2 separate regions of the Homo sapiens genome follow, and region 1 is linked to region 2. The links come from fine-mapping of genetic effects on gene expression. Tissue or cell type: whole blood. Region 2 holds a variant in brackets; the other region holds the start of a gene. All regions are shown on one strand. Distances are from middle to middle.

Region 1 (8,181 bases), 110 kb after region 2:
CACGAGGTCAGGAGATCAAGACCATCCTGGCTAACACAGTGAAACCCCGTCTCTACTAAAAATACAAAAAATTAGCTGGGCGAGGTGGTGGGCACCTGTAGTCCCAGCTACTCGGGAGGCTGAGGCAGGAGAATGGCATGAACCCCGGGGGGCGGAGCCTGCAGTGAGCCGAGATCCCGCCACTGCACTCCAGCGTGGGCGACAGCCAGACTCCCTCTCAAAAAAAAAAAAAAAAAAAAAAAAAAAGAATTAAGTGCTTGAAGCAGAGACCAGAAACCAGGTCTCCTACTTCTTGGGCTCACCTTGTTCTCTTCACTATCTTAGAGCAGCAGGAAGGCACTGAGATTTGTTTAGGTCCCTCTCTAGGTAGCTACCCTAGCTTGAGTTGATGAGAGTATTAAACAGGATAATGCATGTAAAGGACTCCATTTACAAGATGAAAAACTGAGGTCCAGAAAAATTAAGTAACTCACCACAGGTCACACACTTGGCATTGGACTAGAAGCCAGAAATATTCCACACCTTGCAGTTCTGCAAGTTAAAGAAATAATAAATAACATTAGTATGGAACTCTGTTGTGTCTTCATGTTACTGTAAACAAAAAGACAGGAGTTAACCTCTGAAAATAAGAATATCTTTAAATTACTCAATCTTGAATATTCCCCACGCATTGTATCTCAAGACAGGAGTTTGGTTAAATACCAGTAAGATAACCTCTAACCAGTTATAAAGACATCAATCACCTCTAAAAGTGAACTAGAGATATAGATATCACCTTATAAAAATTCCTGACATTTGATAGGGAGTAGTAAAAATGGAATTACTTTAAAATCTCCCATTTTTGTTAGAGAAAATTTTGGAAAATAATTAAATTTTGTCTATTTTCTTTATTTTTCCATGTATGACACATAGCAGCTTGTTTTGCCACAACTGTTATGAAGACTGTCTCCTTTCATTCCTTTTCTTTTTTTTTTTTTTTTTTTTTTTGAGACAGAGTCTGGCTCTTTCACCCAGGCTGGAGTGCAGTGGCCGATCTCGGCTCACTGCAACCTCTGCCTCCCAGGTTCAAGCGATTCTCCTGCCTCAGCCTCCCAAGTAGCTGGAATTACAGGCGCCCGCCACCACGCCCAGCTAATTTTTCTATTTTTAGTAGAGAAGGGGTTTCACCATGTTGGTCAGGCTGGTCTCCAACTCCTGACCTCAAGTGATCCACCCGTCTCAAGCCGCCCAAAGTGCTGGGATTACAGGTGTGAGCCACTGCGCCCAGCCAGTCACTGCACCCGGTCTTTCCCTTTTCATTACCACATCCTCCATCATGCAAAATGAGAAGAGATCATCTCAGAGAGATACCTAAAGTATCTCAAAAGAAAAAGTCCTCCATGATTTTAAGATATTTTTGTCAAGCACTTTAGGAGGCCCAGGCGGGTGGACAGCCTGAGCCCAGGGGTTGGAGATCAGCCTGAGCAACATGGCAAAACCCCGTTTCGTCTTTTGGCGAAACCAAAAACTACAAAAAATTAGCTGGGCATGGTGGTGCACGCCTGTGGTCCCAGCTACTTTGGAGGGTAAGGTGGCAGATTCGCTTGAGCCTGGGAGGCGGAGGTTGCAGTGAGCCGAGATCGCACCAGTGCACTCCAGCCTGTGCAACAGAGCGAGACCCCCCATCTCGAAAGAAAAGATATTGTCATAACTTTATTTCTACCTCTCTATGCAGAAAATCCCATTCGATCTGGAGAATAGTACTTTTACTTATAAAACTGAAGCATAACTATCTTGTGTCTCCAGTAGGGGTACTACTACTCTCATTAAGTATAAAAAAAGTTTTTAATTGGTCATACAAATCTTAAGAAATTTAAATTTGGTCTTCAGAATGAAATGCTATAACGAATGGCTTCAAGCACACAACATGGAACATTCTGAAATCCCTGTTTCTTTTTCAAAAAGTAAACTCCAGCTACTTACTGAACAAGAACTGGATGCTAGTGCTAATGTGCTAATTTTGTTTTTCATGCCAAAGGAGTTCTGCCAAAGAGGTTTCTAACCTGTCCTCCTTGTTCCCTGCATTATACTTTTTACAGAAAGTTCCTAGCCTCGAAGGCGGTACGACCATGATGTAAAATATGTAATTCAATTATTTTGCTTTAGGATATGCAATCCATGTACTTTGCTTTTCTGATTTATAATGCTACTCCCTCCTCCCCCAGGGTAAAGGAAAGTACAAAAGGAGAGAGCTTCACAGTAATCTGCCGACTAAAACATGATACCCGATCACCGCATTTAAAACTTTTTATTTTTTCATTTCTCTCAAGTCTAGAGTTGAAAAATCAGCTCACTTGATCTTATCTAATCATCAAATAAAAGGTTCTAGAAATAGCTTCTTATTTGTGGAAAGAGCCAGAAGACACATACAAATGGAAGAGAGCTCTTGAATCGTCTTTCCCAAAGCATTCTATGCGTGATGAATGCAAGCAAAATCCTGGAAGGCTTTTCTCTGAATTAGGTACTTCCTAATTGAGCTCATTTGAAAGCTGATGTAAAATGCAATCAGAAAGCAGCCAGAAACAGTGACAGACCAACAGCAAAGTTCAAATACTTATTCCCTGGAGCTCATGCTGCATACACATATTCCGTGCACAGTCGCATTAGGTACTGTCTCCATAGGCTCACCTGTTTCAGGTTACACATGCTCCTCTCGGTCTGGTTGCCCTGGTTTGCCCACTCCACACATTCACAAATGACTCAAGTCTCACCTGCCCCCGGCCGTCCCAGCTCCTGACACCCCCGCGTCGGTCCGCACCGACGTGTCGGCGTACACACACACACACACCCGTACACACGTGTCCGCACACACCCTCGCCCCCGGCCCCGCCCAGGAGGCGGACCCGGGAGAGGCGAGCCGGCCCGGCCTCCGCGAAGTGGGTGGTGCCGGGCCCCGCAGCCCTGCCGGCGCTGTCATCGCGGACGCCGTGCACCGCGTCCTCGGCGCAAACTCCTCGCGGCCGCTGAGGTTCCCCAAAATGCCAGGGCCTCGCCAGCTCCCATTTCAATTGAAAGCGTCCGCGCCCCTCACTGCACGGAGGTCCCTGGAACCCCAGAATTTAAATAGGGGCAGGGGGCGAGCATAGGGACTATCCTCCTTTTGACTTTCTGCGTCGCAATTCCTCCCGGGCGGCAGGGCGGGAGGGCGGCCGAGCGCGGGCGGGAGGCGCTCCCATTTTGAAGGCTTGTCTCGCCTTTCCCGGCGCGGGGCTCTCTGACCGGAGGGCGAGCCCACGAGAACGCCAGGGAGGCGTACGCAGGGTACTAAGGGCGCCGCGCCCCAACCTCCCCGCGCCCCAGACCCAGGTCGTCTCTGGAGGTGCCTGCAGCCCCCGCCGCCGGAGCCACGGGAGGAGCCGCAGCCGCCCCTCCGGGAGCCGCGCGCTGACTGCAGTGCCAGGCGGAACGCGGCCCAGCGCGGCTGCAGCTCCGCCGTACCCCCCTCCCTGGAACCCCGGCCCCCGCCCTGCGCACCTCGGCAGCAGCCGAACCGCAGCTTGGGACTCCGACTGTCACAGCCCCTCTCGCCGGACCCGGGGTTTCTCCGTTTTCGGCGTCACAATAATAAGGAAGTTTCCCCGCAAGCCTGCGGGCGGCGGAATGCGCTGGGTGAATGGCTTCGCACCGGGCCAATGGGCGCCGTTCTGGGATGGGCCCGCGCCAATGGCGGCCGCCGTGGCACGGGCTGGAGGCGGGGCGGCAAGGTCCGCGGGCAGGAGGAGGGGAGAGGCCCAGGCCCCAGAGCCAGGCGCAGGCTGCCCGAGGTGACAGGACTCGAGGGCCCGGCGCGGGGACAGCGGCACGGGTGTGTCAGCCGAAATCGGACTGCAAGACATAGAGCGTTGACGCTGAAATAAGATTGCTTTTCACTGGCGGGGAAGCGAGCTGGACCGATCAGCGGTTGCCTATTCAGGTTCTGGACTCTGGTTTTTATTATTTATGAAGAGGTGACCGAAAGCCTTGGGCACGGGGGAAAAAGCTGGAGGGTGACAATTGAGGGAGAGTGCGCTAGTCTTCTGCTTTACTCCCCTTCGTAGGACTGTAGGAAGCGCGGCGCCGGCCCGCGGCGCTGCGCGGTGGGAGAGGCGGGGAAGGAGGTACGCGGCAGCCGCCGGCGCTCTTCTGGAGAGGTGGGGATCGAAGACCGGCACGGGGCTGCGGAAGAAAGGCGGGCCTGGGGGAGGCTGGAGGGTGGACCCGGGGGGAGCATAGCAAGAAGAGTCTGAGCACCAGATCTTAAAATCTTGTAATCTGAAAGACACTCTGTGGCCTATACCCAGTAACGGATTTTTTAAAAGTTTGTCCTCTTCCACTTTTCCCTAGCGCCGAATCCCAGAGCTTCCTCCCCCTCCCCAAGGTCACTAGTGCTTTCATACTTGCCCTAGACCTGATCTGATCCACAGCTAATCTTTTGCAGAAAACCTCAGAAAGGTGACTTCATGTGTCTGCCCCCCTTAAATGTAAAATGCAGAACACTGGCACGGTACTGCTTTAATCCAAAGGAATAACTCTCCCAGTGGAAGAATTTCTATAACCTGGCATTTGAAGCAGGAAGGCCCTTTGAGGATAGATTCTTACCAAGGACATTCAAATCACCTCAGGTCTGCAATCGCTCGTCCTGAGAACCTAACAGACTGACCAAGTAGAAAAGAAAGTTTCAAGGAGTGGTGTATCCTGGGGATGAGACGTTGTTGGCTGACTGACAGTGTTGAGCCCTCCGTGAAATAATGCAAATTGTCCAGTACACTGAGACAAGAAAGCTAAAAAAGCAGAATCTAAGTTATCAGGTCATCTAAGAAAAAATCCAAACCTTTGAAATTTGGATCACACTTGACACGTTTAGAAACACTGGGGATGGCCAGGCGCGGTGGCCCATGCCTGTAATCTCGGCACTTTGGGAGGCCGAAGCCGGTGGATCACTTGAGGTCAGCAGTTCGAGACCAGCCTGGCCAACATGGTGAAACCTTGTCTCTACAAAAAAAAATACCAAAATTAGCCGAGTAGGGTGGTGTGCGCCTGTAGTCCCAGCTACTCAGGAGGCTGAGGCAGGAGAATCACTGGAACCTGGAAGGCGGAGGTTGCAGTAAGCTGAAATCAAGCCACTGTACTTACTCCAGCCTGGGCAACAGAATGAAACGTTGTCTCAAAAAAAAAAAAAAAAGAAAGAAAAAGGAAAAAAGAAACACTGGGGACAAGAGTAACACAATTCACTTATATTCCAGATATGTGGCAGTTTCACAAAAGTTTAGTCTATTACAAAGATGCAATCCCAATTTAGAGATGCTGTTGGCAAAAGAACTGGTTAAATGCCCAAAGAGGAGTCTGGTAGGAAGACGAAGGAGTCCGGTACTTGCAAAGGAGAAAGTGAGAGATCCTATTGTTAGGTGTCACATATGAGGTTTGTAATCAATCAGTGTTTGGGTTGATATGTCTGGCCCATGGCTCAAGTGTTTTTCTTTTTTTGTTGTTGTTTTTTTGTTTTTTGTTTTTGAGACGGAGTCTCGCTCTGTCGCCCAGGCTGGAGTGCAGTGGCGCAAACTCGGCTCCCTGCAAGCTGCGCCTCCCGGATTCACGCAAGTCTCCTGTCGCAGCCTCCTGAGTAACTGGGACTACAGGCGCCCACCACAACGCCCGGCTAATTTTTGTATTTTCAGTAGAGACGGGGTTTCACCATGTTAGCCAGGATGGTCTCAATCTCCTGACCTCGTGATCCGCCCACCTCGGCCTCCCAAAGTGCTGGGATTACAGGCGTGAGCCACCGCGCCCGGAGTTTGTTTTTTTGAGAAGGAGTCTCGCTCAGTTGCCTGGGATGGAGTGCAGTGGCGCGATCTCTGCTCACTGCAACATCCACCTCCCCGGCTCAAGCAATTCTCCTGCCTCAGCCTCCCGAGTAGCTGGGATTACAGGCGCTCACCACCACACCCGGCTCATTTTTGTACTTTTAGTAGAGGCGGGATTTCACCATGTTGGCCAGGCCGGTTTAGAACTCCTGACCTCAAATCATCTGCCCACCTCGGCCTCCCAAAGTGCTGAGATTACAGGCGTGAGCCTCCGTGCCGGCCGGCTCAAGTGTTTTTCATATGAAATTTCATCTTGAGGAAAAGGATGGTTATCAAAGACTCAAGCCTAGAAATGGGATAGGAGCAATGTATAAATAACAAGTTAGGATACTGTAAGCTTCTTTTACCAAATAAATAGCCAAACCCTGAGAACTTACATAGAACTTACATAGAACAGTAAAGATACCACAGTACTTCGATTTATTTTTTTTCATTGGGACAACATATAATGACAATTTCCTTAGCAAGCATGTCCTGCTTCAAAATGGCTTTAAATGGCTCCAGCATCAGCAATAGTCTTAACAGCAGATACGTAAACTGTTTTGAAGAGGCCATGGTTTACTTTTTCCTTCCATTTCTATAGCCCTGTCTTCCATCCATTTCTTTCTGCATTCTCATATATTCTCTAACAAACGTACTATATACTGAGCACCTACAATAATGTCAGCCCCTGTGAATACATTGGTAAGCAAAACAGTACAGTCTTTGTTGCCATGAAAGGGGAGACAAACATTAACCAAATAATTGTACCAAGGAATATATACTTGCTAACCTGTATAAATTTTATAAAAGAAAAACATTCATGTTAAAAATAAAAGGCTTAATAAATTCTAGGCTCATGCCCCTGTAATCCCAGGGCTTTGGGTTACAGGCTGAGGCAAGAGCATCGCTTGAGGCCAGGAGTTTGAGACCAGCCTGTGCAACATAGTGAGTCCCTGTCTCTCCAAAAAATAAAAATAGGCATGGTGGGGCACGCCTTTAGTCCTAGCTACTTGGGAGGCTGAGGTGAGAGAATAGCTTGAGCATAGGAATTCGAGGTTGCATTGAGCTTTGATGGCACCACTGCACTCCAGCCTGGATGACAGAGGAGACTCCAAATACACACACACACACGCACACACGCGTGCACATACACACACACACACACATATAACCATAACTTTTTTTTTAAGAGACAGGATCTTGCTATGTTGCCCAGGCTGGCTTCAAACTCCTAGACTCAAGCAATCCTGCTGCCTTAGCCTCCCGAGGAGCAAGGATTAAACTAACCATAACTTTTGACAGGGGGACAGGACCATGTGGTTCAGCTCTATCACTGGTTAGACAAGGTATGCCCAGTGGCAAGGGGATGGTGCCCAGGGCTGCTGCACTTCTACCTGAACACATGCTGATTTCCTCCATTAGTTACCATTCACTTCTTAAAATACATCTATTTTCAAATGAAACCATTTTTCAATAGAATGGTAATACTGTTTAATGATAATTGTTTTCCTTTCTTCCCTTTGTTTAATTTACTTGCCTTGCAGACAAATATTTACTTGGTAAACTTTGAAAGAGATAGATTTCTGATATCTTGGATGAAATCTGTGGAAAAAAACAGGCTACCCAGGACATTCTGTCTCTCAGATACACCATTGAAGAATAAATATCTTTAGGAGGGAAAAGCACTGACTGATTATTTGACAAGTAAAAAGTATGTGTACCTTGTATGGTTATGTAATGACAAAGGTGTTTCTTGGTCCCCCACGTCCAAAAGAAGTACTTACTTTCTCAGTCTAGTCAGTACTTAATGGAAAAATCAGTCTATCTATACCCAGACTAAACTTATTAAAAACTGTCCTGTAACACACAGCATTGATTTATTAATATGAAACAACTTAGAATAAAAACATTATGGTAAATCAGTATTACCATCAAATAATCTTTTAATATTATTGAATATGTTCCACCTGTAGTACTGCTAGACAAGAAGCATCATTCCTGACTACAAAGAGCTTACAGCCCTTATGATTATTTCTCTATCTTCCTTGAAACTATTCATGGTTTGTTTGCATTTTTTTCTTATCAAGCCATTTGGATGAAGCATAAGAATCTTACCTTAATTATGAGAAACTCATTGTTTTCATATAAATTAAAATGTATTAATGATAACAGGATTGGATGGTTGAACATTTTCTAAGAAAACCTTTAAGTTGAGCATTAGCTGGTCTCTGAAGATTTCATCCAATAAAGCCTTTAGGAAGTGAAGTATTTCGTGAAGGTTCCTCCTTTTAAAAAGTCCCTTAATATGTGCTCTTAGAAA
Region 2 (8,181 bases):
CTATAGCAAGAGAGTCAGCCACTGTCACTTGTGTTGTGGCAGAGACTCAAAATCAAGCAGAGGAGTGGAAAAGCTTTACAGTGGAAAGAGGGAAGGCTTCAGGTACACTCTGATTGGAGGCTGCTAGTCTGGGGAAGCTGCAGGTGGGCTAACTAGAAGTGGGGCATCCTATGTGACTGGTTAAGGGTGTGTATTTGGCTTTCTCTGGTTGGCCCTAAGTTGGAAGTAGGAACAAAAATTAGGGAAGCTGCTGATTATTAATCACATCCTGGCCTATTTGGGCCCACTGTTACAGAAGTTATCGAGACAGATGGCAATCAGGCTGCCTGCAAGTCTGACTTATAGCAGGCTGGCTTCCTGGGCTGCTTATTGCAGATAAGAGGTTGGTTTCCCGGGCAGGTTGCTGCAGATTGTGGGTCTCAGCTCCATGTTTATTTATATATGGCCTGGCCATTGTCCATAGGAATATTCAGTCTCTCACAAGTGGAAATATAAACTGTGAACCTAGACATAAACATTTTGGGGGGAAATTCTGTCAATATCTAGATAAGTTGAAAATGTAAATACCCTTGACCATGCCACTGTGCTAGCGGGTAGGTAATGCAGAGACGCTAACATGTGTGCACAAGAAGATGAGTGCAGGCAAGTTTACTGCAGCATTTTCTTGCAATATAGAGAATTTAGAGAAACAACACTAAACATCCATTAATATGAACATGGACAAGGAAAAGATGGTAGAGTCATATGATGGAAACCATAAAGCAGAGCACTTTGATGGAATTAACTAGATCTAAACTTAGCAAAATGAATAGAATCTCAAGAACAATGCTGAGTGAAAATCAAGTATTTGCATGTTCAGTAAAATATGATGGCATTTATGTAAGTTGTGTTTTAACACTTAAAACAATGCTACTTATAAAAGGTAGTAGCTCTGTCACTCAGAGCTTGTGACCCTTGGGCAAGTTATTTAACTTCTCCATGCCTGTGTCCTCATTTGTAAAATGGGGGAGAGTAAGAGTAGATAACACATGGGACTGCTTTAGGATTAAATGAGTGAATACATGTAAGAGTGCTTAAACCAAGGCTGGTGTATAACAATTACTTTGTAAGTATTAACTAGTATTATCATATTGTTTATGGATATGAGATTTTGCTTATGAGTATGAAATTATAAATATGATGCATACATAAGATGTGTAAGTGTTCATTTTTAAAAACAAAGACATTAATGTAAAAAGATCTTTGTCTAGCCAGGTGCAGTGGCTCATGCCTATAATCCCAGCACTTTGGGAGGCTGAGGCAGGCAGATGGCTTCAGCCCAGAATTCAAAACCAGCCTGGGCAACATGGCAAGACCCAGTCTCCACAAAAAATTAGCCAGGCCTGGTGGTGCATGCCTGTAGTCCCAGCTGCTCAGAAGGCTGAGGTGGGAGAATCACCTGAGCCCAGGAGGTCAAGGCTGCAGTGAGCCATGATCACGCCACTGTACTTCAGCCCGGGTGACAAAGCAAGACCCTATCTCAAAAAAAAAAAAAAAAATCTGTTTTAACATACATGTTTATTATAAAAAGTATAAAAACATAAAAAAAACATATCAAATTCATAAGAGTTTTGTCTGTGTAAGAAAGAAGGGCGGGAAGAGGGGAATGGAATTAAGGGTATGTACAACAGTATCAGTAATTTGGAATTAAGGGTATGTACAGCGGTATCAGTAATTTTTTTCTTTTATTAAAAAATCTGAAGCAAATACCTGTTGACTGTGGATCATATATACAAATGTTTGTCACATTAACTTTTTGTATTTTAGATTAAAAACAATTTTAAAACTTCACATCATGAAGATAGTTATTTACTACTTATCCATCACTGTAATTTAATACTTCATAAAGCTACATTTGAATTATTGGGTTTCCTCCAAGCAGATAGTTTTTACATGTTCACCATCCACACCAATAACTAGCCAACAAATGGTGTAATACAGTGGATAAGTGAGGCAGACAGGGGTTCAAATCCAGGCTCTGCCATCTTCTGTATCTAACTAGTAAGCCTCCCTTTTCCCATTTTTAAAATGGTATAACTGTGCAATCTTTAAAATAAAGCCACTAATGTAAAAAGATTATTGTGCATGTTAATCATTGATGCTGAAAGTTTCTCACACCGTATATAACACCTCACTTCTCTGAAACCCATGACACTAAACTAATGACATTTTTCTGATACAATTACCCAAGAGAAACACCATCACAACAATTTTTATTACAGACTGTGATGGTTAATTTTATAGGTCAACTTGGCTAGGCTATGGCATCCAGTTGTTTGGTCAAACACCAGTCTGGATGTTGTTAAGATATTTTTTTAGTTGGGATGAACATTTAAATTCATTGACTTTGAGTAAAGCAGGTTACCCTCCATAATGTGGGTAGGCCATATCCAATCAGCTGAAGGCCTTAAGAGAAAAAGACTTGAGGTCCTCCAAAGAGGAAAGAATTCTCCCTCCAGACTGTCTTTGGACTCAAGATTTAAATATTAACTATTGCCAGAATTTCTAGCCTTACAGCCTACCCTGCAGATTTCGGGTTTGACAGCCCCCACAATCACATGAACCAATTCTTTAAAATAAATCCCTCCTTGCCCCCACCCCCCTCGGCTTCACACCCTGTTGGTTCTGTTTCTCTGGAGAACACTGACATATAGATTTCGGTACTAAGAAGTACAGTACTACAACAGCAAATACCTAAAAACGCAGATGTGCCTTTGAAATGAGGAAATAGGTAGAGCCTGAAAGAGTTTTGAGGAGCTTGATAGAAAAACCTAGATTTCACTTAAGGGACTATTGGTAGAAATAGCTCAACAGTCTCAGGAAGCAGCCTGAGACTCTCACCATCTACATGCCCAATCTTGAACCTTTTAGCTAGCAGCCTCCGGTCTTCCTTTTTAGCAACACTAAACAGATTAAAGCCACTTTGGGAAACAGTGTGGCAGCTTCTTATGAAGTTAAGCGTACATTTACTGTATGACCCAGCAATCCCACTGCTAGGTGTCTACCCAAGAGAAATAAAAGTCCATGCTCATAGAGAAACCTGTAGATGAATGATCACAGCATTATTCACAATTATGAAAAACTGCAAACACCACAAATGGGAATACTACCCAATAATAAAAAGTAAAATAAAAAATAATAAAAAATAAATTTACTAATATATACAACAACATAAATCAATCTCAAATGTACTCTGCTAGTAAAAAAAAAAAGCCAGGCTCAAATGGCTACATTCATATGATTCAATTTACCTGACATTCTGGAAAAAACAGAGGTACTGAGACAGAGAACAGCACAGTGCTCACCAGGGCTGGATGCTGGGGAAGGGCCACAACGGACTTTTAGGGGACTATTTACTGTTCTATATCTTGATTACTACAG[T/C]GCTTACATTACTGTATTTGCTTGTGAAAGCACGCCCAAAAGGACAAATTTTACTGTTATGTAAATGATACCTCAATAAGCCAGACTTTTTAAAAAACAGTCTGGTTTAACACTAAGTTTTAAGATCTGTTGAGACAGGAAAATAAAAATCTTGAAAGATGAACATGCCCTAAATATTTTAAGCAAGTTAAGTTAGTCAAATGAATTTAACCAAAATGTGGGATTTTTTTTTTAAAGTCTGTCACAACATCCATACTATAGGGGTCAAAAGGCCTGTTTTCTGCCCCTGCATCTGCCAATTAAGTGATACATGCAGTAAGATGATTTCACTGTATTTGCTTCTAAGTTTACTATCTGTAAAATGAGAAACATCATTCCTAATCTCAAGGCAGCTGTAGCCATCAAAAGAGATGATATATGGGAGTGAGAAAGAAGGCAGAGAAGATGGTGAGCCAGTAAGAAGATGGTGAGCAGGGTAAAGAAGACGGTTGGGGGAAGGTGGTGAAGACCGTGGGGGAAGGTGGGGAAGAAGACAGATCGTGGGGAAGAAGATGGTGGGCAGGGTGGGGAAGAAGAGGGTGGGGCTGCGTGGGTGGGTGGGGAGGAAGAGGGTGGGGCTGGGTGGGTGGGTGGGGAAGAAGAAGGCGGGGCTGGGGGTGGGTGGGAAGAGGGTGGGGCTAGGGGGTGGGGAAGAAGAGGGTGAAGAGGGTGAGGAAGAAGAGGGTGAGGAGCGTGAGGAAGAAGAGGGTGAAGAGGGTGAGGAAGAAGAGGGTGAGGAGCGTGAGGAAGAAGAGGGTGAAGAGGGTGAGGAAGAAGAGGGTGAGGAGCGTGAGGAAGAAGAGGGTGAAGAGGGTGAGGAAGAAGAGGGTGAGGAGCGTGAGGAAGAAGAGGGTGAAGAGGGTGAGGAAGAAGAGGGTGAGGAGCGTGAGGAAAAAGTTCGGTGGGGGGAAGGTGAGGAAGAAGGCAGTGGGTGAGGAAGAAGGGGGTGAGGAGGGTGAGGAAGGTGGGGAAGAAGAGGGTAAGGAGGGTGGGGAAGAAGAGGGTGAGGAAGGTGGGGAAAAGGACAGTGCGGCGGGGGGAAGGTGAGGAAGGAGGCAGTGAGTGGGGAAGAAGGCGGGGAAGAAGATGGGCAGAAGGTGGGGCATAAGTCAGTGCGGGGGAGGGGCAGGAGGGAGGGAGAAGATGTGGTGTGGAAAGGTGTGAAAACAGATAGTGGGGAAGGCAGGGAAGCAGACGGTGTTGGGGGAAGGCAGGGAAGACGAATGTGAGCGGGGTGGGATAGATGGCACATGCTTTAACCAAGATAAGAGGGGGCCTTGGCCCTGGGCCCCATGCTTTAGAAAGACTTGCTTTTTTTCAGCCCTCCTCAAGCTTTAGTCCTTCCCACAGGCCAAAGATTCTGTAGGATCTTCTAGAACACACACCAGGACACCGGGAGCTCTGAGATTTCCTACCCAAATGGCTCCAAAACTGCTTCCAGGGGAGTCCTGCTGAGAGACGACCTTGCCACCAAGATATATGCCGCTAGGTGTGTGGGATGGCCAAGGGGGTGTTGGGTGGACACATAGGTACAGAGCTTGGATATGCAAGCTGCCCTATCCACACACATGCACCCCAGGTCCCCAAAGGGGTGGAATGGAGCCAGCTTGCCCGTTCCTCCACTGCATGGAGAGGAATGCGGAGGAATCTAAGAGGTGATCAAACGCCAGCTATGGAGAGAGATGCAGAGGAAAGCGAAGACATATGCACTGGCATTTGTAGAAGGGCCTGGATGGGGGTGAGGAGCACACGGAAAATGGTCTGAGGCCATCTATGCAGTTCCTGAAGAAGCACCTCGGGCAGCTACTGACACTCCCAGCCCAGCTCTACAGGGGTGGGTACATGGGTGGGCTGGGAACAGGGTGTCTGTCCAACAGGCGGGTGTTGAGGGCCCAGAAGATGTCAGGGTAGCAACAGGAGGAATCTGGTGCAGTATGAGCACACGGCCGTCAGCTGATAGTGGGAAGCCAGTCAAGTGCCGCGAAAGCAGGAGGCGGGGCCGCGGCCAACGTCATTCCCGCGGCCGCACGTCACCGCCACTTGCCGCATCCGCAAGATCTCTCTGGACCAGCTCGGGTGCAGGGCCTCTGCGGGAGCCCTCCTAGACCTCTGCGGCTTCTCCTCTAACATGGCCGACTCGGAAAACCAGGGGCCTGCGGAGCCTAGCCAGGCGGCGGCAGCGGCGGAGGCAGCGGCAGAGGAGGTAATGGCGGAAGGCGGTGCGCAGGGTGGAGACTGTGACAGCGCGGCTGGTGACCCTGACAGCGCGGCTGGTCAGATGGCTGAGGAGCCCCAGACCCCTGCAGAGAATGCCCCAAAGCCGAAAAATGACTTTATCGAGAGCCTGCCTAATTCGGTGAAATGCCGAGTCCTGGCCCTCAAAAAGCTGCAGAAGCGATGCGATAAGATAGAAGCCAAATTTGATAAGGAATTTCAGGCTCTGGAAAAAAAGTATAATGACATCTATAAGCCCCTACTCGCCAAGATCCAAGAGCTCACCGGCGAGATGGAGGGGTGTGCATGGACCTTGGAGGGGGAGGAGGAGGAGGAAGAGGAGTACGAGGATGACGAGGAGGAGGGGGAAGACGAGGAGGAGGAGGAGGCTGCGGCAGAGGCTGCCGCGGGGGCCAAACATGACGATGCCCACGCCGAGATGCCTGATGACGCCAAGAAGTAAGGGGGGCAGAGATGGATGAAGAGAAAGCCCACGAAGAAAAAAGCCTGGTTTTGTTTTTCCCAGAATATCGATGGACTTAAAAAGGCTCAGGTTTTTGACCAAAATACAATGTGAATTTATTCTGACATTCCTAAAATAGATTAAATTAAAGCAATTAGATCCTGGCCAGCTCGATTCAAATTTGACTTTCATTTTGAACATAATAAATATATCAAAAGGTGTTAAAGAAAACTGAATTAAACCCAAAATTATGTTTTCATGGTCTCTTCTCTGAGGATTGAGGTTTACAAAGGGTGTTAGCAGATGCGAAGTAAAGAACGTCACTTTGAAACCCATTCATCACACAGCATACGCTACACATGGAACACCCAAGCCATGACTGAACACGTTCTCAGTGCTTAATTCTTAAATTTCTTTACTCATGACATTTCGCAGTGCAGAGAAGGCAGAACCCAAGAAAAACGTCATCTTTGAGACTTTGCTTTTGTAACGCAGACATCAGCTTTACACTTCACAGGAGATTGATGGCATTGAGGAAGATTGCAATGGAGATCATGACACTACTGTTAATAAGGCCAGGAAAACTGCCATTTCAAGTTCTGAAAAATGTTTTGAGTATTTGAATTTAGAGAAACAACATGGTTCCAAGAAGGAGGGTGTAAAACCTGTAAAATACTGTCAACATATGTATTCATTAGTTACAATCTCATGTTTGTGTTTTCTTAGTACTGTCTATTTACAAACACGTAAAAAATACCCCAAATATGTTTAAGTATTAAATCACTTTACCTAGCGTTTTAGAAATATTAATTTACTTGAAGAGATGTAGAATGTAGCAAATTATGTAAAGCATGTGTATCCAGCGTTATGTACTTTGCGCCTTGTGACGTCTTTCTGTCATGTAGCTTTTAGGGTGTAGCTGTGAAAATCATCAGAACTCTTCACTGAAGCTAATGTTTGGAAAAAATATATACTTGAAGAACCAATCCAAGTGTGTGCCCCTACCCCCAGCTCAGAAGTAGAAAGGGTTTAAGTTTGCTTGTATTAGCTGTGCCTTCATTATTTTGCTATGTAAATGTGACATATTAATTATAAAATGGTGCATAATCAAATTTTACTGCTTGAGGACAGATGCATACAGTAAGGATTTTTAGGAAGAATATATTTAATGTAAAGACTCTTAGCTTCTGTGTGGGTTTTGAATTATGTGTGAGCCAGTGATCTATAAAGAAACATAAGCTTAAAGTTGTTTATCACTGTGGTGTTAATAAAACAGTATTTTCAAAAAATATATATAAAAGACTCGGTACTGTGACTGCCTGCATTCAAATCCCAGCTCTGCCTCCTATTAGTAATGTACCTTAGGCAACTCAGCTAATACTCTCAGTGGCCAGTTTCTCCTCATCTACAAAAGGGAATAGGAATAGTCCCTTCCTCATGGGTTACTATGAAGAGCAAATGGATTAATACATATAAATCCTATAGAATAGCATCCAAACCATGGTAAGTGCTGAATAATTCTTAGCTATTATTATTACATGAAAGATAAAGACAGTGATTGGAAATTCAATCCTCCTCTCCTGTTACAAAATGGGAGAAAGAGACATCACTACATCCCTCCCTATGTTTTTGATTCCTTATTATGAGAGAAGAATGTGGCCTTTAATTCAGAAATGCAGGAAATTAAATAAACTATCTTGTTTTGGTTTCCTCAATATAATATCAGGTTTTTATCATCTCCCAGAAAGGATAAAAAAGGCTATTTCAACTTTATGTTTGCTTCATTCTGAATGAAGCAGAAAGTTTTTTTTAAAAACTGGACTCCAGAAAAATTAAAAAATCAGATGCCATTTGCTTCCTTTTCCCTGAAGGGTTAAAATTACAAAGAAGCAAAATTATATTGCTTTATCCTAGGGAATGGAAGGCAGCACTGACCTGTTGCTAATCACAACAGATTGTTGAGTACAAACAACCTTAAGGTAAAGTTAATCTTCATTATGCTCAGGCCAACCAAAAGAGAAAATCAGAATAATACGTTACATACA

The links. PIP is the estimated chance that this variant, and not a neighbour inherited with it, causes the effect.
Region 1: HERC3 starts here. The variant in region 2 is fine-mapped to the expression of HERC3 in whole blood (TOPMed, PIP 0.92).

What each region holds. Positions count from the first base shown.
Region 1 is chr4:88,587,907-88,596,087 of GRCh38, reverse strand. It overlaps HERC3 (HECT and RLD domain containing E3 ubiquitin protein ligase 3), which reads right to left and starts at 3,608. Exons shown (of 26, transcript NM_014606.3): 1 at 3,514-3,608; 2 at 474-531. RefSeq lists silencers at 2,583-2,992, 3,313-3,872, 4,043-4,102.
Region 2 is chr4:88,695,161-88,703,341 of GRCh38, reverse strand. All of the region lies in intron 23 of HERC3 (HECT and RLD domain containing E3 ubiquitin protein ligase 3), which reads right to left. It overlaps NAP1L5 (nucleosome assembly protein 1 like 5), which reads left to right and starts at 5,513. Exons shown (of 1, transcript NM_153757.4): 1 at 5,513-7,429. The coding sequence starts at 5,588. The coding sequence ends at 6,136. RefSeq lists an enhancer at 5,364-5,423. The variant T/C (reference allele first, on the strand shown) is at 3,421.